Regions from separate parts of the Homo sapiens genome. Here all the other regions are linked to region 5. Evidence: fine-mapped QTL for protein levels in blood plasma. A gene starts in region 5. Each other region holds a variant in brackets. All regions are shown on one strand. Distances are between the middles of the regions. Region 1 overlaps LOC107987104 (a long non-coding RNA gene). Region 2 overlaps LOC112268050 (a long non-coding RNA gene). Region 3 overlaps LOC105376166 (a long non-coding RNA gene). Region 4 has its middle 2.9 kb from the start of ZNF782. Region 5 holds the start of CTSV (cathepsin V). Region 6 has its middle 77 kb from the start of CTSV.

What was found. PIP is the posterior inclusion probability: the model's chance that the variant is causal. Protein levels are from antibody-based Olink assays in UK Biobank. Linkage for the fine-mapping came from a reference panel and not from the study's own genotypes, which makes the PIPs less certain.
Region 1: its variant is fine-mapped to the plasma level of the CTSV protein (UK Biobank, PIP above 0.99).
Region 2: its variant is fine-mapped to the plasma level of the CTSV protein (UK Biobank, PIP above 0.99).
Region 3: its variant is fine-mapped to the plasma level of the CTSV protein (UK Biobank, PIP above 0.99).
Region 4: its variant is fine-mapped to the plasma level of the CTSV protein (UK Biobank, PIP 0.97).
Region 6: its variant is fine-mapped to the plasma level of the CTSV protein (UK Biobank, PIP above 0.99).

The regions. Positions count from the first base shown.
Region 1 is chr9:97,093,717-97,098,792 of GRCh38, forward strand. LOC107987104 (a long non-coding RNA gene) reads right to left here. Exons shown (of 4, transcript XR_007061681.1): 2 at 1,406-1,540; 3 at 1,015-1,053; 4 at 1-287. It also overlaps the pseudogene VN1R51P. Among named protein-coding and RNA genes, the nearest start is that of CTSV, 57 kb to the left of the region's middle. The variant T/C (reference allele first, on the strand shown) is at 2,070.
Region 2 is chr9:97,137,958-97,143,033 of GRCh38, forward strand. LOC112268050 (a long non-coding RNA gene) reads right to left here. Exons shown (of 6, transcript XR_002956927.2): 6 at 1,912-1,997. Among named protein-coding and RNA genes, the nearest start is that of SUGT1P4-STRA6LP-CCDC180, 98 kb to the right of the region's middle. The variant T/A (reference allele first, on the strand shown) is at 2,285.
Region 3 is chr9:97,121,796-97,126,871 of GRCh38, forward strand. It overlaps LOC105376166 (a long non-coding RNA gene), which reads right to left. Exons shown (of 3, transcript XR_930154.3): 3 at 2,504-5,076. It also overlaps the pseudogene FAM220CP. Among named protein-coding and RNA genes, the nearest start is that of CTSV, 85 kb to the left of the region's middle. The variant A/T (reference allele first, on the strand shown) is at 2,801.
Region 4 is chr9:96,854,867-96,859,942 of GRCh38, forward strand. It overlaps a transcript of ZNF782 not described here. Among named protein-coding and RNA genes, the nearest start is that of ZNF782, 2.9 kb to the left of the region's middle. RefSeq lists a silencer at 5,001-5,076 and an enhancer at 5,001-5,076. The variant A/G (reference allele first, on the strand shown) is at 2,534.
Region 5 is chr9:97,036,381-97,041,456 of GRCh38, forward strand. It overlaps CTSV (cathepsin V), which reads right to left and starts at 2,762. Exons shown (of 8, transcript NM_001333.4): 1 at 2,691-2,762; 2 at 1,538-1,673; 3 at 1,113-1,235; 4 at 872-1,018; 5 at 143-367. The coding sequence starts at 1,663. RefSeq lists a silencer at 2,797-3,106.
Region 6 is chr9:97,113,448-97,118,523 of GRCh38, forward strand. No RefSeq gene overlaps it. Among named protein-coding and RNA genes, the nearest start is that of CTSV, 77 kb to the left of the region's middle. The variant A/G (reference allele first, on the strand shown) is at 2,348.

The sequences.
Region 1 (5,076 bases), 57 kb after region 5:
TGGGATAAGACGACTTTCTCTACTTCATAGATTTTGAATTCAGGATAAGACTTTCTCTACCAATGAGCAAAAATGGACCAAAAAATGGGGTAACATGAGGAAATCAAATCTGAGATGGTCCACAACTGATCCCTTTTCTTCACCGTACTTAGGTAAATGCTGTGGCACGAGTTGCTCACATTAAATACAACGAAGCAAATCATAAGCAGCAGCGCAGTCGTGATGGTTCCGGTCTCATGGGAGGCTATAGAGGAACAGCTGTTGTTGTGAAGATGTGGATTATTTTTCTGGTGTCTGTGAAGGAAAATCACCAAGTAGCCACTGGCTCAACTCATGAGAACCAGAAAAATTAAGTCCTGGAATGTGATAACACTCGTATGAGAGACAGCAATTGTGTTGCCCATGTGTGGTGTAGCTAAACACATTTTTATGGAGAGATTCTTGGTGACACTGCCATATTTGATAGTGTCAACAAATGGCACAAGCTTGATGTAGATGAGACTGTTGATGACCCAGAGTGTAAGAAGAAGCACAGTGGTGTTTTGAGCATTTTGTCTTTCAGCCACGTCCACCTGGATTTGCTGGGGCTCCCACGGAGGGCCTGCACCATGCTTAGGAGGTATGTCGTACATAGGGGAAGTCCCCAAGATACTCTATATAAAAATTCAAATTCCCTACATCCAGTATAATTCAAAAGATTTTTAGTGTTGAAAGATTTTACTGCCAATGGAATAACTTTGCGGAGAAGTGTCATCGTATTAGCAACAGACAAGTGAAGGAAAAGCAAGCCCATGGGCTTCTTCTGCTGGGGACATATCAAAAAGGTGTAAATAGGCATCAGGAGTAGCAGTAAGTTCCTCCAAATCCCAATGTCAATATGAGAGAGGAAAAAAATTTCCATAATTGTATTGCTGGAAAGCATGGTGTTACAGGCTCTCAGAATGATACAAATATTATATTTCAGCCTGAAAAGACTGAAAAACATCAAATTAAAAGCAGAACACAAAAGGATACATGTCCCAGGGAGAAAGGATTTCATCTCTTATGTAGTTCCTTTAAAAGGGAATACGAAAAGAATAGAACTATATTAAATATCATGTTGGAAAGTTCCATGGTAACCAATTATCCCTCTCAATGTTCACAGGTAATTTTGGGATATGATGTAGGCCAATAGGAAATAATGAGTATTTCCATAGCAAATAAGCCTTCATTTATGACACACATTTATTTTGGCAGTAATAATTAGTCTCTCTCCAGAACCCAGAATAAAATGAGAAAAATCAAGTGGGTTTTGATCTGCAGTGCCATTTATATTTGGTAAGATTTCTCATTACATTAGTCAGTCTGAAACAAATTACAGTGGAGTGTGGCAGGAACATGTATTATGAACTAAATAAATACTCACTAATGCACTCATCATCCGGTTGGATGAAAACGTTCAGTGTCTACTCTGATGGAAGCCAAAGATGCTGATCATAATGAAGTCAAAACCATCAGTACCTGATTCACACTCTTACATTTCCTTAAAAATACCAGGAGGCTGAAACAGAAAAGTGGAAAAGAGAAATTAAAGATAAATTTATAGAAGGTTTATAAGTGATAAAAACATGAAAAATAACTTTTTCAGTTATTAAATCAATTCAAATGGAAACAAATAATTTTGCTCATCAATTTGTAAAAGTTTCCAAATTAATCTGCTTCAAAAATGAAAAGGTCCAGTAAGATAATAAATTTTCCTATAATGCTAATGGGGATCAAGTGTTGATATCTTTGGCAAAGCAATTTAAAATACATATTAAAAATTTGAAGACAATTGTACAAAAATAAATAGCCTTCACACATACAAATTACAGTCAGAAGCTATAAGGGCAGAGATAACTACATTTACAATAGCAATAAAACATACTTAGGAATAAACTTACCAAGAAATGTACAAAGCCCATAAGAAGAAAACTGTAGGTCAGGAATTGTGGTGCATGCCTGTAATCCCAATGCTTTGGGAGGCCAAAACAGGAGGATTGCTTGAGCCTGGGAGTTTGAGACTAACCTGGGCAACAAAGTGAGACCCT[T/C]GTCTCTACAAAAAATAAAAAAAATTAGCTGGGCGTGGTGGTGCACACCTGTGGTCCCAGCTACTAGGAAGGCTGAGGCAGGAGGGTTGCTTGAGCCCAGGAAGATGAGGCTGCAGGATGCTGTTTCATGCCATTACACTCCAGCTTGGGCAACAGTGCAAGACCCTGTCTCAAATACAAAAAACAGCAACACACACACCAAAAAAACACTGTAAAACATTTCTAAAAAACATAAAAGTGGCTTGAACAGATGTAGAGACATTTGGATAGAAAGCCTCAATATCATCAGTATGTCAGTTCTCCAGTAATTTAGCATATGAAGTCAATGCAATCCCAATTGAGATAACAACAGTAGTTTCTTTTGGTTGGGTTTTTGGATCTAGACAAGTTGATATTGAAGTTCATATGGAAAAATAATCACAAGGGTAGAAAAATACTATCAAGAGAAACGAGGGGGATTAACATCACCACATATTAAGCCAACTGCAAAGACTATATAATTAAAACAATAATAATGGCCCACGACTAAACAAATAGATGAATGAGATAGAACTAAAATCAAGCACACAAATAAAATCCAAATATTATGGAAAATTAGTAAATCATAAAAAGTTCATATCTCAAATCATTGGGCTAAAAAGGGGAATTTTTAAGTAAATGATGTAGCCATTTATTTTTCCAATGGCATAGCCATTTGAAAAAGTCGGATTAGTTTCCCACACTATACACAAGAACAAACACCGTAACGATGGGAAATATAAAGAAACAGTCATGCATGGTCTCTGTTCTGGCTGCTTGAACTCTATCTGGGAGCAGTGCAATCTAGAATTCTCCATTCAACCCCCAAGTGCTCCTCTCCCTTTCGCTCCGGCCCCTGATTTATCCTCTCTGAGCTCTCAGGGTCCTGCCTTGTGTCCTTGTGCATGTGCAGCTTAGTGTACAACCAGGACATCACATGACCTGCATGCAATCCTGGGGATCCTTCCCTGCCCCATTCTTTCCTCTCTGGTGACTTTCCACATAAAATTCAGCCACTTCAAAAGCCCCAACATCTGATAGGTTTCATCATCCCACAAGATCTCTGCTCTATGTTTGGGCTCCATTTCCTGGCTCATGGCTCTGTTCCCTTCACTTAAGAATTATAGTCATTCAGCCTGGCCAACATAGTGAGACTCCGTCTCTACGACAAATTAGCCAAATGTGGTGGCGTGTGCCTGCAGTCCCAGCTACTCAGGAGGCTGAAGTGGAAAGATTGTTTGGGCCCGGGAGGTCAAGGCTACAGTGAGCTGTGATGGAGCCACTGCACTCCAGCCTGGGCCAAAGGGCAAGATTCTGTCTTCAATAAATAAATAAAAGGAAGAAAGAAAATAAATAAATAAAAGGAACTGTAGTCTGTACTGTCTGTTTTTCAAAACCTGGACACAGTTGCTTATTTTCTTCCCCTTTGACAATTGTTGATGGTGAAACAATAAATCTGCTACTTATTCCTCTGAGAGGGCTGGGCCGCCCTCTCTCTTTTTTTGTTATTATATTTACAAATTGAAGATATCATGTCACTATTACTGTAGAATTTTCTTTTTTTCTCTTTTTTAATTTTTCATTTTTTAGAACAGGGTTTTGCTGTATCACCCAGACTGGAGTGCACTGGTGCAATCATAGCTCACTGTAACCTCAAGTGATCCTCCCACCTCCGCCTCCTAAGTAGCTGGGACTACAGGTGTCAGCAACCACATCTGGCTAGATTTTTATTTTTTTGTAGAGAGAGGGTCTCACTATGTTGCCTAAGCTGGTCTTGAACTCCTGGCTCCAGCAATCCTCCCGCCTTGGCTTCCCAAACTGCTGGGATTACAGGGATGAACAATTGTGCCTGGCCTGCCAAGTTTTTCATAATCTAGATTTGACAGACAGTTTTACTCATGGTTTCACTTTACTTGTATCTCCATCCTCTATATTTTGCATGGACTTTTAAGTGTATCTACAAATTTGATATATTTCATTTTTGTCTTATTGAGAATATTTCATATATAGTACTGCGTACTTCCCTTTGCATCAAAACAGAAAGCACAATATCTGTTTAGTGATATTAAAATTGATTATTGGGTCCAAGTATTATCAGCCTGAGTCATCCGTTATACAGATTCCTCATCAACCTGTTAAATGCTTGGTATTCATTCATGTTTGTTGCTTAGACATAGTCCTCATTAGAGTTACAAAGTAGTGATTTTCTAATCATACTGTTTCTCCTCTGTTAATTCGCTGAAATGTTCTGGCACTAGAATATTCATTAGTGAACCTCATTCCTAAGTAGAAGAAACACAATGAACAAATTCAAATGACAACTGGTAAGAGAAGAATGGAAAATCTGCAACTCTTACCAGATACAAAGGGCGAATTTCAATATTTTTGGGTTCTAAAAATGATCAAGATATAAAACAAAAACCCAATAGAAAACAATGTGCAAAGGGTACGAGGTTACAGTTCACAGAAAAAGAAAATAAAATGACTCTTAGAGGAACATATTTTCATACATATGTATAATGAGATAAATGCAAATCAAAACTTCAATTCCATTTCTTTGACAATTAGAATGACTAAGACTAAAATTTTAATTAAAAAATTTATGGGCAACATAATAAGACTGATTTCTTAAAAAAAGGTAGCCATTCATTTCTGTTGGTAGAGTTGTTGGGTAAAATGTACTTTCATAACATTTCCTACAAAAGGTACATTTTTCTCTTACCATTTCAGTCAACTGTTTCATATTCACAAATTTATCCTCTAAGTATACTTGCATATGTGTAAAATTTTTATTTAAAAAGTTATTCACTGTAATAAACTTTTCACTGCAATGAATGTTCATTCATTTTCTGTAGTAGCAAAAGACTAGGGCAACCCATTAATTATGGATTGAATACACAGAGTATATCAATACATGAAACGATACAATTTCATGTATTTATTTATTGATTTATTTATTTTTATTATTTTTTTTTTTGAGACAAAGTCT
Region 2 (5,076 bases), 100 kb after region 5:
GGATTTCTTTTCTTTCAAGGTACAATGATGGTACAGGTATTGGGTAAGCTTTCTCAATCCAAAGGGAAAAAATTTCCCAGAAAAATAATACAAATGCAAGTCCAAATCCAGCAGGACAGTATTCACTCAATCTTAAAGCTCCATAATCATCAAGAGAACTCACTATCATGCAGACAGCATTAAGGAGATAGTGTTTAACCATTTGTGAAGGATCTGCCCCCCATCCTTATCTTTCAACCCCACCCCCAAAATAATCTCAACCATTCTCCCCACACCCCTACCTCCAACACCCAGGCTTCAACATGATTAAATCACCTTCCACCAGGTCCCAACTTTCACGTTCCCCATTACAATTCCACATGAGTATCGGTAGGGACACAGAACCAAATCATATTATTCTGACCCCAGTTCTCCCAAATCTCATATCTTTGACACACTGCGAAGTACAATGATGCCTTCTCTACAGTCCCCCAAAGTCTTAACTCCTTTCAGCATTTACTGAAGTATCCAAAGCCCAAAGTCTTATCTGACACAAGGCTGCAGTCCCTTCTGCCCCTGAGCCTCTGAAATACAAAGTAAGTTAACTACTTTCAAGGTACAATGATTGTACAGGCATTGGGTATGAATTTCCAGCCAAAAGAAAAAACTTTGCCAGAAAGCAGCACAAAATACAGATGAGACTTACAGATCTAATGCAAGTCAAAAACCCAGCAGGCCAGTCATTCCATCGTACAGCTCCAAATCATCTCTTTTTGATCTAAATCCCACATCCAGAGCACAGGGGTGTGATGGCTGGGCTCCCAAGGCCTTGGGTAGCTCTTCACCTGTGGCTTTGCAGGGTCTTTCCCCCACAGCTGCCCTCATGGGCTGGGCTAGTGTTGAGCACCTGTAGCTTTCCACACTGAGGGTGCAAGCTGTTGGTGGGTCTATGAATCTGGGGTTTGCAGAATGGTGCCTCCATGTGTGGGGATTCCAACTCCATATGTTCCTTCTGTACTACCCTAGAAAAGGTTTCCCATGAGGGTCTGCCTCTTGGAAAAGCTTCTGCCTGGAAACCCAGGTTTTTCTGTACATGCTCTGGAGTCCAGACGAAGGCTCCCAAGGCTCAAGCCTTTTGCTCTGTGCACCTGCTGGCTTAACACTATGTAGAATCCACCAAGGCTTGCATCTTGTACCCCTGAAGCAGTGACTCAAGCCATACCTGTGCATCTTTCAGCCATGGCTGGAGCTGGAGCTGCAGGGATGCAGGTAGCTGTGTGCTGTGGCAGAGCACAGCAGTGGGACCTTGCAGCTGGCCCAGGAAAACATTCTTCTCTCTCAGGCCTTAGGGCCTGTGATAGCAAGGGCTGCTGCAAAGGTCTCTGAAATGCCTTCAAGGCCTGTTTCCCATTGTCTTGGCTATTAGCACTGGACTCCATTTTATACAAATTTCTGAAGCTGTCTTGGATTTTCCCACCGAAAATCAGCTTTTCTTTTTGACCACTTGGCCAGGCTGCAAATTTTCCAAACTTTTAAGCTCTGCTTCTCATTTAAATTTAAGTTTCTACTTGAGGTCATTTATTTGGTCACACCGAAGACCACAGGCTTTTGGACACAGACAGGATACCTCTTGAGCTTTGCTGCCAAAAGTTCATGTCTGTGATTTAGATACACCCTATGATTTAGATACACCCTAAATCATCACCCTCAAGTTCAAAGTTTCATAGGTCTCCAGGTTAAGGGCATCATGCAGTGATATTCTTTGCTAAGGCAAAACCAAAGTAACCTTGGCTCCTGTTTTCAGTAAATTCCTCATTTTCATCTGAGATCTTGTAAGCCTGGCCTTCACTGTCCATCCTTCTGTCGCCCTTTTAATTATAACTATTTAACAAGTCTCTACAATGGTCAAAACTTACCTTCATCTTCCTGACTTCTTCCAAGGCCTCCAAACTTTCCAACCTCTGGCTGTTACCCTCTTCTGAACCTGCTTTTACATTTTCATCCATCCTTGTTGCAGCCTATCAATGTGGTAAAAAGAAGAAATGTCCATTTTCAAGGGAAAAATTCACAAAGGGATCCGATATCTGCATGAAGAGAAGCTGAGTGCTGATTGCCAAGACAATAAGACAAAAAGGCCTTGAAGGCATTTCATAGCTCCACTTCCGAGCACTAATTTTCTGTAAGATCATAAAGAAAAGAGGTTGAACTGGCTCATGGTTCTGCAGGCTTTAAAGGAATCATAGAGGCCTCTGCTTCTGGGAGGAATCAGGAAGCCTCCCAATCATACCAGAAGACCAAGCGGCAA[T/A]GGGATGTTTCATATGGCAGAAGTAGGAGCAAGACAGAGAGAGGAAAGAGGTGTGACACCCTGTTATACAACCAGATCTCACGACAACTCACTATGACAAAATCAGCATCAAGAAGATGATGCTTAATCATTGGTGAAAGATCTGGCCCCCCCCAACACCCCCACCCCACTACTGTTTCCATGTAGAAGCCTGTTGCAGAGCCAGAGCCTCTTGGAAAACCTCTACTAGGGCAGTGCAGAAGGAAAATATGGGCTTGGAGTTCCCACACAGGAGGTTACCATCCTCCAGACCCCAGATTCATAGACCCACCAACAGCTTGCACCCTCAGTATGGAAAAGCTACAGGCACTCAAGGCCAGCCCAACCCATGAGAGCCGCCATGGGACTAAACACTGAAAGCCACAGGTGCACTGCCTTAGTAGAGGTTTTCCATGAGGCTCTGCCTCTGCAGGAGGCTACTCCCACATCCTACTACCCACCAGCCTCTCACCACTTTACTGCCAACCTACTCCTCCCCACCCTACCCCCTCCTTTTTTCTTCTACCCCCAACTCCCTCCCATCCATGATTCAATCACCTCCCACCAGGCCCCACCTCCAACATTTGGGAATACAATTTCCCATGATCTTTGTAGGGAAACACTGCCAAACCATATTACTCTGACCATAAAATCCCTGAATCTCACGTCCTTCTCACAGAATAAAATACAAACAAGCCTTTTCAAAAGTTTCCAAAAGTCTTAACTCATTCCAGCAGTAACTCAATGTAAAAAGATTAAAGTCTCATCCAACACGAGGCTGCAGTCCCTTCTGCCTAAGAGTCCCTGAATGTAAAAGGGAGTGCTTCTCTTTCAAGATACAATGATGGTACAGGCATTGGGTAAGGTTTCTCAGTCCAATGGGAAGAAATTTTCCAGAAAAATAACACAATTGGGACACAGGTCCAATGAAAGCCCAAAAACCTGGAGAGTATGTATGCATTCATCATGAGAACTCACTTTCACATAGACAGCATTAAGGACATACTGTTTAACCATTTGTGAAAGATCTGCCCCCCAGCCCCATCTTTCACCCCCACCCCCAGCCTAAACCCCCCAAACTCACCACACCCTCACTTCCAATCTCAACTGTCCACCATGATTAAATCACCTTCTAACAAGCACCACTTTTAACATTCCCCATCACAATTCTACATGAGTTCTGGTTGGGACACAGAGCCAAATCATATTGTTCTGCCCCTGGCCTTCCAAATCTCATGTTACTCTCACTTTGCAAAATACAATTATGCCTTCTCTACAGTCCCCCAAAGCCTTAACTCATTCCAGCATTTACTCAAATGTCCAAAGCCCAAAGTCTCATCTGAGACAAGGCTGCAGTCCCTTCTGCCCCTAAGCCTCTGAAATACAAAGCGAGTTAACTACTTTCAAGGTACAATGTTTGTGCAGGCATTGGGTAAACATTCCCAGCAAAAAGGAAGAAATTTGCCAAAGAAAGAAGCACAAAACACAGATAGGACTTACAGACCCCATGCAAGTCAAAAATCCAGCAGGCCAGTCATTCCATCATACAGCTCTAAATCATACTTTTTGAATCTACATCCTACATCCAGAGCAGAGGGTGGTTTGATGGCTGGTCTCCCAAAGCCTTGGGCAGCTCAGCACTTGTGGTATGGCAAGGTCTTTCCCCAAAGCTGCCCTCATGGGCTGGGCTGCTGTTGAGTGCCAGTAGCTTTTCAACACTAAGGGTGCAAGCTGTTGGTGGGTCTATGAATCTGGGGTCTGGAGAATGGTGCCTCCCGGTGTGGGGGCTTCCCACCCTATATGTTCCTTGTGTACTGTCCTTGTAGAGGTTTACCATGAGGCTCTGCCTGTTGGAAAAGCTTCTGCCTGGAAACCCAGGATTTTCCATACATACTCTGGAGTCTAGATGAAGACTTCTACGTTTCTAGTCTTGTGCTCTGTGCACCTGCTGGCTTAACACTATGTGGAAGCCACAAACGCTTGGAGCTTGCAACCCTGAAGCAGTGACCCAAGCTGTACCTGTGCATCTTTCAGCCATGGCTGGAGCAGGAGCTACAGGGATGTAGGCAGCAGTGTCCTGAGGCTGCACACTGCAGGGGACCATTGGGCTGGGCCAGGAAACCATTCTGTCCCAGAAAACCATTCTTCTGTCCTAGGCTTCAGGGCCTGTACAGCAAGGGCTGCTGCAAAGGTCTCTGAAATGCATTCAAGGCCTTTTCCCCATTGTCTTGGCTATTAGCACTGGGCTCCATTTTATGCAAGTTTCTGAAGCTGTCTTGAATTTTCCCACTGACAATCAGCTATTCTTTTTGACCATTTGGCCAGGCTGCAATTTTTTAAACTTTTAAGCTCTGCTTCTAATTTAAATATAAGTTTCTAATTGAGGTCATTTATTTGGTCACACAGAAGACCAGGACACAGACAGGACACCTCTTGAGCTTTGCTGCCAAAAGTTCATTCTGCCAGATACACCCGAAACCATCACCCTCAAGTTCAAAGTTTCACAGATCTCCAGGTTAGGGGCATCATGCAGCGACATTCTTTGCTAAGGCAAAACAAATGTAACCTTGGCTCCTGTTTCCAGTAAACTCCTCATTTTCATCTGAGACCTTCTAAGCCTGGCCTTCACTGTCTATCCTTCTGTCAGCTTTTTAATCACAACTAACAAGTAATTACAATGGTCCAAACTTTCCCTCATCTTCCTGTCTTCTTCCAAGCTCTCCAAACACTCTAACCTCTGGCCATTACCGAATTCTGAACCTGCTTCTACATTT
Region 3 (5,076 bases), 85 kb after region 5:
CTGGATGAATAAGCCTGCGGCTGATGGAAATTCAGAGTGAGGCATTATCACTGGAAATGAGAAAGGATCCGAGCAGGGCTGGCCTCTCGCTTCCCAGTGGCGGCCCAGTTCTTCCATATGTGAAAGAATCAGTAAGAAGAAATCCAGCCTCAGCAGCCACTCCGAGCGCAGCCGTGGGTTTGTTCCCTGCTCCAACAGAGTATTTTGCTCGGGTGTCCTGCAGTGGTGTTGAAGCTCTGGGGCGGGACTGGCTGGGAGGAGGGCCCAGGGCCACCCACGGCCACAGAGGACAGTGCCCCAAAGGAGAGCCTCAGGTGTCACGACTGCCATGCCATCAAAAACTGCCGGAAATGGGAAGTTTTCAGGATGACCCACCAAGTGCTTTTCCCAAGGGTCTGCGCTCTGAGTTGGAACCCTCTTGCCTGCATTCCATCCTGTCTGCAACACTGCAGGCGTGTCCCGAAGAGCTCCTGAATGACGAGACAAAACGCATTTTCCTTGACCGTTTAAACCCCATGTTTTCAAAGCAAACAATAGAATTCAAAAAAATGCTTAAAAGTACCTCAGATGGTCTGCAGATAACACTGGGGTTACTGGCTCTGCAACATTTTGAATTAGCAAATTCATTATGCCATAGTTAAGGTACAAGCAGAACAATACAAGTAGATTAATTTTAAGAGTTGTCTTAGAATGATTAAGGTGTGGTTTGTACGACCTGGCAGACTTAGTTGAGTTTAAATTCAAAACTGGTGGATGCGGAAGGAAATTTTTTAGCATATGTTAAATTGTGCTTTAAAAGACATATAAAGAATTGGGAAACATTTCAGGAGACGATCATAGCCTGTATAAATATCAGATTAGAACATACGGATTTACGATGAAGTTCTGTCTTCAACACCCAGCATTGTCTAAAGGGCTACTGTCCCAAATCCTGTGTGTCCCTTCAGCTTGTCTGATCACCCAACGGAAGTGGATACTTGTAAAGTCTACACCGCTGTACTTGGCGTTAAATCTTGCTGAATTTGTGGTAAGCTATTATCATTTCTACATTTTGTAGAATGATTTTGGTCTGCAGCAAAATTCTATTTCACTTCTTACACCCCTTTCCTTCCACTTGAAATGCAATTTAGACAGAGGCCCTGTGGTGAAAGTTGCAATATTAAGCTTACCTTTAGAAGATCCCTTCTCAAACTCAGAACCCTAGCAGCGTTACCTTAAAAATGAGCTCGAGAGGCCGGGCGCGGTGGCTCACACCTGTAATCCCAGCACTTTGGGAGGCTGAGGCAGGCAGATCACAAGGTCAGGAGATCGACACCATCCTGGCTAACACGGTGAAACCCCGTCTCTACTAAAAAAAAATACAAAAAATTAGCCGGGCGTGGTGGGGGCGCCTGCAGTCCCAGCTACTCGGGAGGCTGAGGCAGGAGAATGGCGTGAACCCATAAGGTGGAGCTTGCCGTGAGCCGAGATGGCGCCACCGTACTCCAGCCTGGGCGACAGAGCGAGACTGTCTCAAAAAAAAAAATGAGCTCGAGAAAAAAGTAGCTCAGTTACAGAGAAGCAAATCAAGTTATTTCCCAGATAAAAAGTTTCCCAGATTCTAGGAATTGCAGTATCTTGTACCCTAAAATTTTTCCAGGTGACTCCTTTTGTTGTCTGTTGATAACTTTAATAAAGGTCATTTAAGGGCATAAGGTTTTAAAGACTCCCAAAGTGAGACTTAACCATTTTCGGGATTAGCGATTGCATATATCAGTTTATGTTGTGTGCTTAATTACTATGCCATGTGCTATTTTAGTGTTTGGGGAAAATGAAAAATAAAATTTGTTCTTTGGATTAATAAATATGTCTTAATAAAAAATACAGTGAATGACAATGAAAATGCAACACATCAACATTTGTGGGTATGTATAAAGCAGGGTGAGAGGGAAATTCATAGAACTAAATGCATAAATTAGATGATAAGAAAATTATCAAGCCAATAATTTAAGCTCCCACTTGAAGTACGTAGAAAATAAGAGAAAAAAAAACCACTCAAAATAAGAAGGAAGGAAATAATGACTATAATAGCAGAAATCAATGAAATTTAAAACAGAAAAACAATAAAGAAAACCAATGAAACAAAGAGCTGGTTCTTTAAAAAGATCTATAAAATTCACAAACATCTACCAAGAGTGACAAAGCAAAAAGGAGAGAATTATAGATTAGAAATATTAGGCATGACACAGAAGGTATCACTAAAGACCTTGTAGATGTTGAAAGGATAATAAATGAATACTACAAACAACTCTAAACACATACATTTGGCAACTTAAATGAAATAGACCACTTTCTTGAAAAGCATAAACTACCACAACTTATCAATATAAAACAAATAATGCAAATAGCCCCACATAAGATCTCCAGGCTCAGATGGTTTCACTGGAAAATTCTGCCCAAAGTTTAAAGAATAATAGATACCAATTCTGTATATCCTCTTCCAGAGAAAAGAAAGACAGCGGAATACTTCTCAAGTGATTTTATTTATTTATCTCATTTATTATTTTTACCATTATCAGAATAATCACATTTATTTACTTCCTGTCTTATTCCACCATTTGTATGTAAATTCCATGGGTAAGGGCCTGCTCTTACGTCCCACACCTCTAGGTCTACAGAGCCTAGAGACAAAGGTGTGAGGAAAGCACTCCGTGACCCTCCCTGGCCAGGCCACATGAGTTCTGGATCTGAATTTAGAGCCACAGACTTTAAGCACTAAAATAAACCTGAGGTTTTCCAGAGGCGTTTAACTTTCTCCTTT[A/T]ATAGACAAGAATGCACCTAAGAATGGAGAGTGGCTTCCTGCAGTAACCCAGCCACTCAATAGAGACTAAGCCCACAATGACCTGAGTCAAAAAGTCTGCAACCTTTTCCCCCCAAATCCCACCTTCTCCTTCTCTCAACTCATTTTTAAAAGCTAGTATTACCTTGATACCAAAAACAAAGACAGTTAAAAAAAACAAAACAAAACAGGAACTACAGACCAATATCCCTCATAAATATAGACACAGAATTAAGCAATATGTAAAAAGAACTATATGCTATGAGCAAGTGCAGTTTATTCCTGGAAAGCAAGGCTTGTTCCATATGTGAAAATCAATGTAACCTACCATATTAACATGATGAAGAAGAGAATCACATAATCGTATCAATTGATGCAGAAAAATCATTTGACAAAATGCATGATAAAAACTCTGAGAAATCCCAGGTGTGGTGGCTCACACCTGTAATCCCAGCACTTTGGGAGGTGAGGCGGGTAGATCACATCAGGCCAGGAGTTTGAGACCTGCCTGGCCAACATGGCGATACCCTGTCTCTACTAAAAATACAAAAAAATTAGCCAGGTGTGGTGATGCATGCTAGCTACTTGGGAGGCTGAGGCATGAGAATCACTTGCACTTGGGAGGTGGAGGTTGCACTGAGCTGAGATTGAGCCACTGCACTCCAGCCTGGGTGACAGAGTGAGACTCTGTCTGAAAAAAATAAAATAAAAATAAAAACTCTGAGAAAAATAACAATAGAGAGGAACTTCCTCAATTTGATAAAGAGCTTTTACAAAACCTCCAACACTTAACATTATACTTAATGGTCAAAGAAAGAATGCTTTTCTCCTAAGAAAGGGAATAAGGCAAAGATATATGCTCTTACTACTCTAATTCAATACAGCACAGGAAGTTTTAGCCAGTTCAGTAAAGCATTTAAAAAAAGGCATATTGATTGGAAAGGAAGAAATAAAACTGTTCACTTTTGCAGATAACATGATGGCTATGTGGAAAATCCAAAGAAATCTATTTTAAAACACCAAAATCAACAACTCCTAGAACTAGTAAGTGAATTCAGCAAGGCTACAGGATACGACATAAATATACAAAAAAATCAAGTGTACTTTGAGTGATGAACGCTTGGATATAAAAATTAAAAATACAATAAGTACCATTTATAATTGCTCAGAAAAGGAAATACTCATTTCAAATTCTAACAAAACATTCATAAGACTTGAATGCTAAACATTAGAAATTCTGATGAAAGAAATCAAAGATCTAAACAAATGATGAGACACATCATGTTCTTCAATTTGGAGACTCAAAATAGCAAAGATGTTAATTCTCCCCAAACTCATATATACAATTCCTACAAAAATTTCAGCAATATTTCTTGTAGATGAATACAAGATTATTTTAAAATTGTCTTGGAGATGCAAAGGAACTAAAATAGCTAAAACATTTTTGAAAAAGAATTACCAAGTTGGAAGAATCAATCTATCCCATTACAAGACTTATTGTGTAGCTATTGTAATCAACAGCACGTGATATTGGTAGAGTGAAAGATACACAGACAAATTAAACAGAACAGAGAACTCAGACCCACATAAATATAACTGACAGGTTATTGACAAAAGCATAAAAGTAATTCAGTGTGGGGAAAGGAAGTTTTTTCAACAAATATTGCTGGAGCATTTGCATATCCATAAGCAAAGTTGAATGGTGACATGAACCTAACACTCCATACATGAATTAATTCAAAATAGACCACGGACTTAAATGTAAAACTACAAATCTTTTAGAAAAATACATTAAAACCCTTCAGGACCTAGGGCCAGGCAAAGAATATTTTAAACTTTACAACAAAAGCATCATCAATAAAACCAAAAATAGATAAACCGGACGCTATCAAAATTAAAGAAAAAAATTTTGTTCTGTGAATGACCTTGCTAAGAGTATGAAAAAACAAACTACCAACTAGGACAAAATGTTTTGAAAGCATATAGCAGACAAAGGATTAGTATCTAAATTACATAAAGAACTCTTAAAACTCAATAGCAAAACAAACAAACAGAAAATGGGCAAATGATATGAACACGCATTTCACCAAAAAGCACAGACAGATGTCAAATAAGCACAAGGAAGGACATTTAACATCATTTGCTATTATGAAAATAAAAATTAAAATTATGATGAGCTATTACTATACACATATGACAATGGTTAAATAAAAAATAGTGACAACTCCAAATGCTAGTGAGGATGAAGGGAAACTCTT
Region 4 (5,076 bases), 180 kb before region 5:
ATTACTTTTGTGAACTGTGAAAAAAAATTAAGAATTTTGTAGAAATTTTTTTTTTAAAAAAAGGGATCACTACTGAAGTATTTAGCATTGAAATGATATAACTTTGAATTTACTTTACAATTTTATACATTTTCAACCTGGAACCTCCACCTTGTCTCTTTACAGCCTACCCGACCCATTGACCTGTGAGCCCTGTCCTGGCGCCCCCAGGCGTGAGGGTTCTAAGGCGGGTCGAGCCCGGTGCTGCAGGTGTTAGAGAAAAGCTTTTGGTTTTTATCCCTTAACATTGCTTCTTGCCGAATTCTCTTATTGATTCAACATATTTAAATTTAATGTTAATTATCTTAGGTTTCCATGCGCATTAACGAATTTTCTTGCTTTTTGCTGATTGTTTTTTATTTCCGTAGGTTATTGGGGAACAGATGGTGTTTGGTTACATGAGTAAGTTCTTTAGTGGCGATTTGTGAGATTTTGGTGCACCCATCACCTGAGCAGTATACACTGCACCCCATTTGTAGTCTTTTATCCCTTGCCCCGCTGCCCTCCGCCATTCCCCGCCAAGTCCCCAAAGCCCATTGTGTTATTCTTATGCCTTTGCATTCTCATAGCTTAGCTCCCACTTATGAGTGAGAACTACGATGTTTGGTTTTTCCACTCCTGAGTTACTTCACTTAGAATAATAGTCTCCAATCTCATTCAGGTCGCTGCAAATGCCATTAATTCATTCCTTTTTATGGCTAAGTAGTATATCATCAGATACATACCACAGTTTCTTTATCCAGTTGTTGATTGATGGGTATTTGGGTTGGTTCCACGTTTTTGCAATCGCAAATTGTGCTGCTATAACCATGCATGTGCAAGTATCTTTTTCATATAATGACTTCTTTTCCTCTGGGTAGATACCCAGTAGTGGGATTGCTGGATCCAATGGTAGTTCTACTTTTAGTTCTTTAAAGAATCTCCACACTGTTTTCCATTGTGGTTGTACTAGTTTACATTCCCACCGGCAGTGTAGAAGTTTTCCCTGTTCACTGCAGCCATGCCAGCATCAACTATTTTTTGATTTTTTGATTATGGCCATTCTTGCAGGAGTAAGGTGGTTTTGATTTGGATTTCTCTTATCATTAGTGATGTTGAGCATTTTTTCATATGTTTGTTGGCCATTTGTATATCTTTTTTGAGAATTGTCTATTCATGTCCTTAGCCCACTTTTTGATGGGATTGTTTGTTTTTTTTCTTTGATGAGATTGATTTGTTTGAGTTCGTAGTAGATTCTGGATATTAGTCCTTTGTCAGATATATAGATTGTGAAGATTTTCTCCCACTCTCTGGGCAAAGTGAACAGCTGAGTAAAGATTAAAGGTGAGCTGCGAGGTGTTGTTACCTCAGAGGGTGCTCTGCAGAAGAGTATATCCATGAGCTACTTGAACTCTTTAAATCAAAACAAAAGGAAAAAAGTTTATTCTAAGCAAGTTTATTTCTTGTCTGATGGTTATTAGATGGGAGAACATTGCCAGATCTAAGCTACCAACCTCAAAAATGTTTTCAAAAACAAATGGTTATTGAACATCACATTTTACAGAGATTCTGCTCCCTTTCTCCCGCCCTCCCCAGAGAGAGCAGTCCTGCATGCGAATGATCAAAGGTCAGTCTTAGGACAACAATGAGAAAACAAGCTATTTAGATAAACTCCTCTACATTCCCTTGTTATTTGCTTTTTACTATTAACTCAAGGTAAGAGGATCAGGCTGCCTTCAGCCATAACCCTTTCCTAAAGCTTTTGCAAAACCTTCTGGCCTTCCAAGAAGGTTTGCCCAGTTCTTTGTAGGACAGATGATTGATAGATGTAAAGTAATTCATGAGTAACCCTGCTTAGCAGGGTTAGAGGAATCCCAGGGATACATAGACTGGCAGCTGTTTCCACCTTAAAACCAACAGAATTGTCTAAGTTGCAGATGATGTAAGACAGAACAATTTTTATGATGTGATCATGAAGATGTGAAAAATAGGGGCTGTAAGAAGGACCATTCTTTATACACGTGCATTCCTTATCAAGCCAACAACTGACTATGGGGAATGTTTTACAACCTCAGAGACCTGCGCCTGCCATGCTGCTCTGCACAGCAGCCACTGGGGGGCTCTCTTGACCGCAGTTTTTTAAGCTAGTGCCCTATATAGAAGGGTAAGTTTTTGTGAAAAGATTAACATTTGCTCACTATCACATGGGTTTTACATATTCAAGCTTGACGTACTTGTAAAGTTCCCATCTGCCTACCAGCTAGGTGTCAGACATTACATGTGGTAGGCACTTGAGGATTTACTGAATGACTTTAAATCCACACTGGGCCTGTGTGTGTGCTGCCTTTTATGAGTGTGAAGGTGACAACACTGCCTCTTTTCATGATGCCCTTGGCTGAGATGACCATCATTCTTGTGACTAAAACTGGGCTGTACATTTCTATGGGCACAGTAGGTAGCAGAAGTATCTGACCTATGATTGTGATATGGCCTCTTGCTCTGCCTGATCAAGCAA[A/G]GTCTCTGTAGAACATAAGAATAAAAGGCACTTACTTTCTGGTCAAAACCAGAAGAAACCTGTCATTCCTAAGAGTTCTTATTACAGCACTCAAACTAAGCTAAATCAAAGGCCAGTGCTCTATTTTGCAGATTTACATAGAAAGACTTGAAAGTTATGCTGATATTGACATTTGTCCAACCAAACTAGAAGAGGATTGTCTTGTCACCCATTTATCTTGCTGTGGAGCGATGACCATGAGGTTGCAGGGAGTGTGAAAAACTGCAGGCTCTCTGAGAACATTTAATCTGATGACATGTGAGTTTGTAAGGTTTTTGTGAACTTTCTGATAATTTTTCAATATTTTTTTGCTCCCATAAACTTAACACTTTAAGAAATATTTTTAAAGGTTACATTGTGCAGATGATGGAAATGGACATGAAAACCACATCTTTCTATTAGCTTTAGAATAACAGTTCATAGTTTTCATTGTTCATTGGTAGGTCTTGGTAAATTGCTCTTGTAATAATCTGCTCATAAATTGAAAAGTATTTTTCTGGTGATTTTTGGCAGTTATCTTCCAAGTATACTACCAGAACATAATAGTACAGTAAATATCTTTATGGCTTTCTAGAGGCCGTCTGCAAGTTCCAGTCTCTCTTTAAGGTGCACATGTCTGGCCTTTGAAATAATTGGCCGCTGACAGGTCTAGGGCCTCTAGACTGTGAAAAATGTGTAGCTTCACCCTGAGTCATACATTGTGCATTTGCTCTTGCTGGTGTTTCCGCTGCCTTTATCTGAAGATCTGTTTTATAGAAACCTTGACATACAGAATAGCCACAGATCCCTGTGCCCCTATCCCCTCCCCCAGGAGTGTTGCCTGTGTTTAGAGATTGGGCTGATGAGTTAGAAGCTCTCCTCAGGCAGTCTGAGAAACATTGCATTGCTGGACATCACCCAATGCTCACCTCACTCAAGAGCTTCCTAGGGCACTCATACAACCACAACAGCACTTTGGGGTCCTTGAGTTACCTATGAGAGTGCAATAAATCTTGCTGAGTCAGGGGGTTGCTCACAGATGGCACCAACTGGACACAGAAACATGAGCTTCATGGGGTCTTTCTTCCAGTCTGGCCTCATGACTGCTGTAAAGGGAAGGGCCTTGGAGCTGGTAGGCAGGGTGAGCCAGGGAGGCATTTTTAGCAAAGGCTCTCAGAGTGCCCACTGGACAGTGAGAATGGCTTTGTGGGTGACGCTTAGGAAAATATGAAGGAACACCTCATATGAAGATCAAGATCGTGACAGGCAGTGGCGCGAGGTTTTGTTTGTTTGTTTGTTTGTTTTACATTTGCCTGTAGGTAAGACTGTCATTCAGAATGTATGCAGCCACAGAAGTGGAGCCTGATGGCTAAGTAGAAATCTCTGCCAGCTGTGCTCCCCACAGGAATAGCCTCAGCAGTGGACCTGTGGTGAGGAGAGAGTCCGTGCTTGGCGGAGGGAGAGCACAGCAGCTGTGGGACTTTGCACTGAACTCAGTGCTGCCTTGTTGTAGCAGAAAGCAAAACAAGGTTGCACTCATCTGATGCCTCCACCCACGGAGGAAACATTTACACTAGTGCCCACCCACGGAGGGAACATTTACACTAGTGCCCACCCACGGAGGGAACATTTACACTAGTGCCCACCCACAGAGGAAACATTTACACTAGTGCTAGCCAGAAGGGAATTGTTTATCCCAGTGGTTGGAACTTGAGTTGTGGAAAGCCTGGCTACTGCAGGATAAAGTACTCGGGGTCCTTAATAAACCTGAAAGGCTGTCTAAGCCACAAGGACTGCAACTCTTAGGCAAGTCCTAGTGCTGTGCCGCGCTTGGAGCCAGTGTATTTGGGGGCATGTGACCTAGAGAAACAGCAGCTAGGGCAGCTATGGAGTGCTTGCCCACCCCTCCTCCAACCCTAGACAGTGCAGCTCGCAGCTCTGACAGAGACCTCTTTCTTCCGCTTGAGGAGAGGAGAGAGGAGAGGACTTTGTCTTGCATCTTGGATACTAGCTTACAGTAGGAGGGGGCACTGGTCAGAGTCATGAGACCCCCCTTTCAGGTCTCAGCTTTGGGATAACATCTCTAGACAAACTCTGGGCTACAAGGGAACCTGCTTCCTTGAAGGGAAGGACTCAGTAATGGCAGGATTCTTCACTATCTGACTAAAGAGCCCTTGGGCCTTGAATAATCAGCAGTGGTAACCAGGTAGTACATGCCATGGGCCTCGAGTGAGACTCAGAGATGTGCTGGCATCAGGTGTGACCCCGCACATTCCCAGCTGTGGTGTCTGTGAGGAGAGACTCCCTCTGCTTGAGAAAAGCCGAAGGCAGAGTAAAGAGGATTTTTCTGGAGCTTAGACACCAGCTCAGCTACAGTGGAGAAGAGCACCCAGTGGACTGTTGGAGTCCCTGATTCAGGCCTTGGCTCTTAGATGGCATCTCTGGACTTAGCCTGGGCCAGAGGGGAGCCCACTGTCCTGAAGAGTGAGTTCCAGGCCAGACAGCATTCACCACAAGCTGACTGA
Region 5 (5,076 bases):
TTTATAATGACAATACTCACGGTTTGCAGATGTAGATTCTACCATATAAAATGTGAATTCTGAAAAAAGTATCTGTTATCTCTGAAAGTGTTCCACTTTCCAAAAGCAGAGCACGAATGACAAGATAAGGAGCTCCATTTACCACTGCTACATATGGATAGGATTCCTCAGAGTCCAGGCCTCCGTTCTCCTTGACATACTGGAAGGCCCTAGCCATGAAGCCACCATTGCAGCCCTGATTGCCTTGAGGACGCGAACAGTCCACCAGATTCTGCTCGCTCAGTGAGACAAGTTTCCCAGTTTTCCGGAACATCTGTCCTTCAAGAGCACCAGTCGCACTAAAAGCCCAACAAGAACCACACTGTTTCTAAAAAGGGAGAAAAAAAAAGCTGTAAATTTACAAGACCAATACAAATACAGTACCCCATAATTGAATTACCTTAATATTCTTTAAAAAAAAAAAAAACCCATCGCCACACTTTGGGAGGCCGAGGCGGGCAGATCACTTGAGGAGAGGAGTTTGAAATCCGCCTGGCCAACATGGTGAAACCCTGTCGCTACTAAAAATACACAAAAATTAGCTGGGCATGGTGGTGAGCACTTGCAATCCCAGCTACTCGGGAGGTGGAGGCAGGAGAATCTCTTGAACCCAGGAGGCAGAGGTTGCAGTGAGACGAGATCACGCCATTGCAATCCAGCCTGGGCAACAAGAGCTAAACTCCGTCTCAAACAAGCAAACAAAAAAAACACCAAAAACCAAAAATACAAAAAACCCATCACCATATGTTGTGCCACCATCTACCACAGCAATGACACCAATTCCTTCTTGGCTTTCCTGTGGAGACAGGGTCTGAATCTGACGCTGTCTCACCTGATTCTTCACTGGCGTCACGTAGCCTTTCTTTCTCCAATCCACAGATTTGGGAAGATCAAGAAACAGAGGCTCACGGAACACTTTCCCCTTCCTGAATTTCTGGTTTCGAAAGCAACCCATCATCTGCCTGAATTCTTCATTGGTCTTCAAGGAGAAGTAAATAAAATGTTAAAAGCAAGACTATTTTGGTGAAGAACTGAGAAGCAGCACAGAGTTCAGCAATCCTTGCCACACTCACCATGTCACCAAAAGCATTCATGGCCATTGTGAAGCCATGTTTCCCTTGGCTGTATTCCCCATTGTGCAGTTCAATCATTTTCATATTCTTTTCCCACACTGCTCTCCTCCATCCTTCTTCATTCTAGAGGCAAACATATAGCTGGTGGACTTTATGTCTACTTACCCAACCCATGTTCACCAAGCCGATTTGCGGGCAGAAATGGAAGAGAAACCATGGCCAGGGATGGGTTGATACTTCTCTGGGAGCTGTTCTCCAAGCCAAGACACAATGGAGATATATGCCCATATTGCACCTATAATGGGTGCTGTTAGGTTATTGCCTGGTAAGGTCTGGTGTCTAGAAGCTACTCTCTGGCTATCAACTCCCAACAGCGAGGACCATTCTCTCCAGAGTCCCTCTGGACAGTTTCAGATGTTACCAACCGCGCCATATAATCTTCTGTGTGTTGCCTTCCACTGGTACCACTTTGTATCCAAATTTTGGTCAAATTTTGGAACAGCGGAGGCTATTCCCAAGCAAAAGGCAGCCAGGACGAGCGAAAGATTCATGTTTCAAAACCTAGAAAGAGAAAAGAAATGAGTATCTGATTAGACCAATCCTAAAAAGCCATCTTACAGCCCCCGTGGAATAGAAATATTTCAATTATTCTCCCTAGCATTTCCCCAAGGACTGTGGAAGAGGCTGAAACAGGCCAAGTGGAGGTATTTGATGGGCCCACCAAAATTAAAAGCAGCCTGCAGAGTTGGAGGCGTTGAAACAGCATATGCGATAATTTAGGGTATGAGAAGGGTGTGAAAGATACCTGACGGGTGAGAAGCTTAAGGCAACAACTAGAAAACTAGGAAAGAGTTGGTCCAGGTTTTGCACCAATTGTACTGAGGTCATCCAGGCAAAACCTCACTAATGAAGACGTACCATCCCAAGTAGATGCAAGCGGATCCCCAAGGAACACCACCTCACACCTTCTTGGCTGATACACAGCAGGAGATGAGCTATGTCTTCCAACCTCTCCTTTTGGAATAAAACCTTTCGGGAATCCCTTTCCAGGAGACACTGGGAAGGAGAGCACCCACTATTCCCGCCGTCCCACACTTGGGTCTGTGCTACTCGCTCCCCTAAACCGGGGCAGGGTCACAAGGCCGCGCCGCTGGAAGCCAGGGGCCCCAGGGCCAGGGCCCGGACCGAGGCAGGCAGCTCCCGGAGCTCCGGGCGGGCCAGGACCGGGGCCGCACCGCCTGCTCTCGCCCTCTGCACGCGCCGCCGCGCCCCGAGAATGTTTGCGGCGGTGCAGGGAGCGGGGGCTCCGCGGCCAGGCTGGGGGCATGAAGCCGCCCGGTCCGGTCCGGCTTCAGCCCACAGGATGACTGACCTGCCCCGCCCGGGCCCTCCCAGTGGTGCCGGCGCCTCCCTGGGGTCTCCAACCGCCCTCCCCCGTTCCCCACCTCGAGGCTGGCAGAGCTCCGGGCAGAAGCTCTCACTCCCAGAAGCGCCCGCCTCCTCTCAGTGTCCCTAAAGGGGGGTTCCCTCCTCCAGTCCCCCTTCGCCCTGTCCCTCGGTCTGGTCGGGGGCGCTCACCAGCAGCCGTCGCAGCTGCGCAGGCACCCTCAGCAAACAAGCCTCTGAGATTACAGACGTCCGCGGTCTGGTGCAGGTTCGCCCGCCTCGGGATTTAAGTTTCCAGGCGGCCTTCCCCGCCCCCACCGCCTTCCCGCGCTGCGATTGGCTGTGCCGGCCACTGGGCGGGGCCCCGGGCGCTTAGAGCCCGCGCGTGACGCAGCCCAGTCCCAACCCGTCTCAGGTCTGGGCGCGCCTACCTCAATACACCCTGGCTGCGGGAAGCTGGGCCGGGCGCCCGGGGGCTGCGCGGAGGAGGGGGAGGCGCCTCCCTCAAGGGCTCAGATCTACTGACTATCCCGACTTACTGCGCTGAGCGGGTGGTTTACAGCGAGCTCTGTGTGGTATTTCAGTCCCTACTTTAACTTAGTCCTAGAGTTTTTGGTGAAAATCTGCAGGGCCGGGAGCCAGGGTACTCTCGTTCAGTGGCTCCTGTTTAGTCCACGGCAAAGGTGGGACGGAGTGGAAGAACGCACAGCCCCCAGCAGAAGCATTACCTTCCACTTAAGGGTGGGTGCATCAGGGCTTTAGAAGAATCTGGTAAGGAAAGGCACTCCCAAAACACGGGATGGATGGTCGAGACCGGACACCAGGAGGGACGGGACTAGCTGATAGGGTGTCCAGAGACCGCGGAGCGTTTTGTGGTGCGTCCTTCCCAGTCTGTTGCATTCAGGAATTCTTCCTTCTCCCATGTCTTTCAATACCAAAAAAAAAAAAAAAAAAAAAAAAAAGAGTTACAGAAATATTTGGTTAATAAAAAAGAGAAAAGCGTTGAGAATGGTGAAATAAATTGCTTTAAAAATTTTTCTTTTGTAGAAATGGAGTTTGGCTAAGTTTCCTTAGGCTGCTCTTGAATTCCTGGCCTCAAGCGATCCTCCCCTCTCAGCCTCCCAAAAGTGGTGGGATTACAGGCGTGAGCCACTACGCCCAGTCTGAGAGTGGTGGAAATTGCTTTTACTTACCTACTCTCTGCTTATGGGTTACAACGTCTCTTCCTCAGTATTCAAAGTGTGCTTCTTTTGAGATTTAATAAATTTACTTTAAAAATGTTTAATACCGGCCGGGCGCGGTGGCTTACACCTGTAATCCCAGCACTTTGGGAGGCCGAGGCGGGCGGATCACGAGGTCATGATATCGAGACCATCCTGGCCAACATGGTGAAACCCTGTCTCTACTAAAAATGCAAAAATTAGCTGGGCGTGGTGGCGGGCGCCTGTAGTCCCAGCTACTCAGGAGGCTGAGGCAGGAGAATTGCTTGAACCCGAGAGGCGGAGGTTGCAGTGAGCTGAGATCGTGCCACTGCACTCCAGACTGGTGACAGAGCGAAACTCTGTCTCAAAAAATAAAAATAAAAATAAAAATATATAATATCAGGGTTGAGGTGATGCAGTTTGAGGAACTGCTCTTTATGGAGAAATATATGTAGCTAAAGATTTAAGGAAATCATTAATAATTCAGAAACGTTTCTAATTCTTTTTAAAGTTATATAAAAAAATCCATTATAAAAAATATGTTTTAGAAAATAAACGTCCCTTGTGCCCTCTCCATAACCCTTTTCTAGGCATATCTTTTTTTGTTTTTACAAAAATGAAGTTATAATGCATATTGATTAATAAACTCTTAAAGATTAAATTGAATAATATCCACAGTTTTTACTTGTTAATTTGAAAATTTGTGAAATCAAGTTTAGCCTAAAGCTGCCTCCCCATGTGATTTAAGTTTGGCCTAAAGGTTTCTCTGTACATAGCGAATTGTAATCTAAATGGAGGTGTAAACAGACTGTAGCCTGCTCTTGTGCCTATCCCCGAATTTCTGTAAATCAAAGAGGTTCAGTTGTTCAAACCATGTTCAAATAAGGCAAACATGGAGCTGTATCCAATCCTGCAGTTTCTGTGCCTCACTTGCCCTTTTCTGTCTATAAATCTTCCCCCATGTGGCTGCACTGGAGTCTCTCTGAGCCTACTCTGGCACTGGAGGCTGCCAGATTCACGAATTGTTTTTTGCTCAATTAAATTCTCTTAAATTTAATTTGGCTATGGATTTTCTTTTAACAAATTAAAAACAATTAAACTGACAACTTTTCAGAAGCACCATCAGGCAAATACATCTTTTTAAAAATCAATTTATTAATAATTATATGTCCTTCCTTTAAATAAATAGCAGCTTTTCCCTCTCAAATACAACTAGGGGCCAAAGCTGTCAGGTGGTTATATAAAAAATACAAAAGTATATTGTATTGCAGGCCAAGGTAGGTGGATCTCCTGAGCCTGGGAGTTTGAGACCAGCCTGGGCAACATGGCGAAATCACACCTCTACCAAAAATACAAAACAAACAAACAAAAATTAG
Region 6 (5,076 bases), 77 kb after region 5:
AAAGAAAACTTTAAAATCCTAGAAAAATATATGAGGGTGATGGAAAAAAGATTAAGTATTGAAAAGCTGCCAAATGTTACAAATTCAATTTATTGATAGAATTGTATTCAAGGAGCTAATATGTTATAAAAAAAAGATATTCTGAAATTAATTTGGAGTAATAAATAGGAAAGTATAATCAATAAGTTACACTGGAAAAGTTCATCATGAAAAGAAAAGTTCATTCATGAACTTTTGTATATGCAATGCATTTCATGTAGTAATAAAAAAAGATAAATAATTAAGTTATGAGTATAGAAATAACCTGATAACTAAAAGAAATAGAACACAGAGAAAAGAAAATAATTATATTATAAATAAAAATAAAGTACCTGATAATTTGATGCTATAAATTTGGTGGAAAATTTAGAATAATTTACTGAATGGTGTTGTGGAAACCAGGTAATTATTTGGAGGCTATAAAGTTGTTTGACAATTTTTACATACAAACAAAATAAGTTCTTAACAGCTGGACAATTAATTATGTTATAATAGAAATTTCATGTTTTTTGAGAGGTCTTAGGAATTCTTAAGCAAATCAAAAAAGAAAAGAAAGAGGCCAGGCGTAGTGGCTCACGCCTATAATCCCAGCACTTTGGGAGGCTGAGTCCGGCGGATCACTTGAGGCCAGGAGTTAGAGACCAGCCTGACCAACATGGTGAAACCTCGTCTCCACTAAATATACAAAAATTAACCAGGCGTGGTGGTGCACATCTGTAATCCCAGCTACTCTGGAGGTTGAGGCAGGAGAATCACTTGACTGGGAGGCAGAGTTTGCTGTGAGCTGAGATCGTGCCACTGAACTCCAGTCTGGGAAGCGGAATAAGACTCTCTCAAATTAAAAAAAAAAAAAGAAAAATTAAATGGATTAAATTAAAATAATTAGAAATTCTTCATGCATAGCACAGCATAATTAAAAAGAATAGACAAACTAGAAAAATATTTAAAAATATATGAGAAATACAAGGTTAAATTATTACATGGACCATTCATAAATCAATGGCTAAAGACAGAATGCACAGAAGAAAAAATGAGGAATATATGAAATTACTTGCAACTTCATGTTGAAATGAGAACATTTTGTAATACTTTATGCCATCAAATTGGTGAGGTAACATTTTAATTTACAAATCTGCTGTTGTAAAAATATAGCAATATAATTATACTTTTTTCTTTTACTATTGGTGATTCACTTGTGGAGTGCAACTTGGCTACAGGCTTCAGTATTCTTAAACTGTTTTATACCCACCGATCCCCCAAATTCAAGTACTAAAATGTAATTGCCAATGTGATAGAATTAAGCAGTTGGGCCTTCAGGAGGTGATTAAGTCACGAGGGTGGAGCCCTCATGGATGGGTTTAGGGCCTTTATAAAAAGATTTGAAAGAGTGAGTTTGTCCCATTCCATCCCTTCCACCATGTGAGGACACAGTGTTATACTCCTCTGGAGGATGCAGCAACAAGGCACCATCTTGGAAGCAGAGAGCAGCCCTCACCAGACATCAATCCTGCTGGTACCTTGATCTTGGACGTCCCAGTCTTTAGAACCATGAGAAATCAATTTCTATTGTTTATAAATTGCCCGGTCTGTGGTATTTTGTTTTGGCAGTAGAAATGGACTAAGACAATCCCCCAAATTGTTTTTTAATATTCCAAGAAATAATCAGAAGCATAAATAATGACTTAAAATAACTTGATAATTCTATTTTGATGAAAATAATAGACAACACACAAAATAGGAACATGGTGCAATGAGCTATAATAGTATACTATGTTGCTATTATTTTTTGTTATTGTTGATGACAATGATATATTAGTTTGCAAATTTTGTTCAGTGCTGGGAATTGTTTTCAGCATTTTATACATAATAGGATATCAGTTCTCATACACCCAATGAAGTAGATATAATCCCCTTTAAGGGTGAAGGAAATGAAACTCAGGGTGCTTAAGACTATTCCTTAAAATCACATGGAATGTAAAATGATAGAGGCTGGATACAATCACAATCATTTTGACTATTTTTTAAAATACTTTTTGTATAAAATTTTTCAAAAACCACAAATGCAGAAAAAATAAGAGGGTATGAACCTCCACTAAACACTAAGAGGACACACAACAAAAGAACTATGTGCAAACAAAAAGCACAAAACTATGTGCATCAAGGGACACACTCAACAGAGTGAAAAGGGAACTCACGGAATTGGAGAAAAGTCTTGCAAATCATAAATCTGATAAGGGATTAATATCCAGAATAGATCAAGAACTCCTGTAACTCATCAACAACCAAAAAACTCAATTAAAAAATGAGT[A/G]AAACTATTTCTTCAGAGAAGATAAACAAAAGGCCAATGAGCACATGCAAAGGTACTCAACATCCTCCATACTTAGGAAAATGCAATTCAAACCCACAATGAGATAGCACTTCACAACCATTAGGATGACTACTATGAAAAAAACAGAAAATGGCAAGTGTCAATGAGGATGTGGAGAAATTAGAACCGTTGGGCATTGCTGCTGGGAGACACTAAAATGAGACAGCCATTGTGGAAAACAGTTTGGTGTTTCCTTAAAAAGTTAAACATAGACTTGTCATAGCTATCAAACATAGAATTATTCTATGATATTATAATATAGAATTATCAGCAACTCCACTTCTAGGTATATATACGATGAACTGAAAGCAGGTACTAAAGCAGATACTTACATGCCAATGTTCATTGCAGCATTACTTACAATAGCTAAAAGATGGAAACCACCCAAGTGTCCACAAGCAAATGAATGGATAAAGAAGATGTGGCATCACATAGGATGGAATATTATTCAACAATGAGACGGGAAAGAGTTCTGACATTTGCCACAATATTGGTGAAACTGAAAGCATTATATGCTACATGAAATAAGCCCAACACAAAAAGACAAATACTGCATGATTCCATTCTGTGAAGGAGCTAGAATTAGTAAATTCATGAGTAAAAGGAGATAGAGGTTACTAGGGGCTGAGGAAGGAGGAACTGGCAGTTGTTTAATGGATACAGAATTTCAGTTTGGATCAGGACAGTGATGTTGGTAGCACAGCATTGTTACTGTAATTAATGTCACCGAATTGCACAATTAAAAATGGTAAAAATGACAAATTTTATGTTATGTATATTTTAGCACAGTATAAAAAGGAAAAAAAAATAATGAAAGTGTCCACCATGAAGGGCTGCTGTGAGGACTAAATGAGCTGTATACATAAAAGGCCTGGCCCAGAATGAGCACTCAGAGATGTTTTTTATGCGAATAAAATGTTAGACAGGTTCCCCAAGCTTCATCTGCGTAAAGTTTTAACATGATCTCTGGATGCTTGTCAGATAATTCTCTAGATTAATTACTTGAAAAGCATTACACACACACACAGTTTTGTGATCTGCTTTTTTCAACAAAACAAAATATTGGAACAAAATTTCATGTTACAGTTCTCCATCTAGATCATAATTGTAAATAGCTAATTGTGTGGTGATAATCAGAGTGATATTTAACCAATCCCCTATTCTGAAATATTGAGGTGGTTTTCCACTTGTCATTGTTTGAAAAAAACCACGCCAAATGTGTGTATTTACAATATTATTCCCTTGCCAGATTTTCTAGAATACATATCTAGAAATGGAATTACTGACTCAAAGAATATACGTATTTTTAAGATTTTGATTTCTGTTACCACTGGAACTTTGCTAAAATAATTTTACTGAGAAAGTGAGGTGGTACATTTTTGTATGAGGGTCATGTTGTTTAGTTTTTAAAAATTGCAGTAAAATACACTAAAGAATGCAGTTCAGTGGTATTAGACATTTATATTGCTCTGTTACCATTACCACTATCCATCCTCACAACTCTTTTCATCTTGCAAAGCTGAGACTTTGTATCTATTAAAAATAACTCCCAAATGAGTTCAAAACTTATGTCCACACAAAGACCTAAACACAAATTCTTATAGCAGCTTTATTCATTAAGTGCTAAAGCTCAGGAGCAACTTTGATGTCCTTCAGTAGATGAATGAATAAATAAACTATGGCACATACAGACAATGGAATATTCAGCACTAAAAAGAAATGAGGCTGAGGCAGGAGGATAGCTTGAGGCCAGAAGTTAGAGACTAGTCTGGCAACATAGCCAGACCTCGTCTCTACAAAAATGTAAATAATTAAAAAAAAAAAGAGTTGGGTGTAGTGGTGCATACCTATAGTCCCAGCTGCTTAGGCAGCTGAGGTGGGAGAATTGCTTGAGGCCAGGAGTTTGAGGTTACAGTGAGTTATGATGGTAGCACTGCACTCCAGTCTGGGTGACAGAGTGAGACCCTCTCTCCATGAAGAGACATGGAGAAACTTTTTTTTTATTTTGGTATTTTTTGTAGAGACAGAGTTTTGCCATGTTGCCCAGACTGGCCTCAACCTCCTGGGCTCAAGCCATATGCCCACCTCAGCCTCCCAAAGTACTGGGATGACAGCATTGAGTCACTGTGCCTGGCTGCAAAACAGGAAGTTGGGAAGCATATCACTAAGTGAAAAAAAACCAATCTGAAAAGGCGACATACTGCATGATTCCAATTACACATTATAGAAGAGGCAAAGCTATGTAAACAGTAAAAAGATCAGTGATTGCCAGGAGTTAGGGAGAGTGAGGGATGAACAGGTGGAGAACTAAGGGTTTTGGGGGTCAATAAACAATTCTGTATGATACTGTTAAGGTGGATACATGTCATTATTATATTTGTCCAGATTTACAGAATATGCAACATCAAGTGTGAACACTAATGTAAACTATGGACTCTGGGTCATAATGATGTGTCAGTGTAAGTGCATTGATGGGAACCAATGTAACACTTTAATATAGGATGTTGACAGTTGGTGAGGCTGCGCATGTGGGGAAGGGGTAGAGGATACATAGGACCTCTCAGTACTTTGGGCTCATTTTTGCTTTGAACATATAATTGCTTTAGGAAATAAAGTCTGTTAAAAGGTGTTTTTTAAAAAGATAATGAATAGGTACAAACACTAAGATG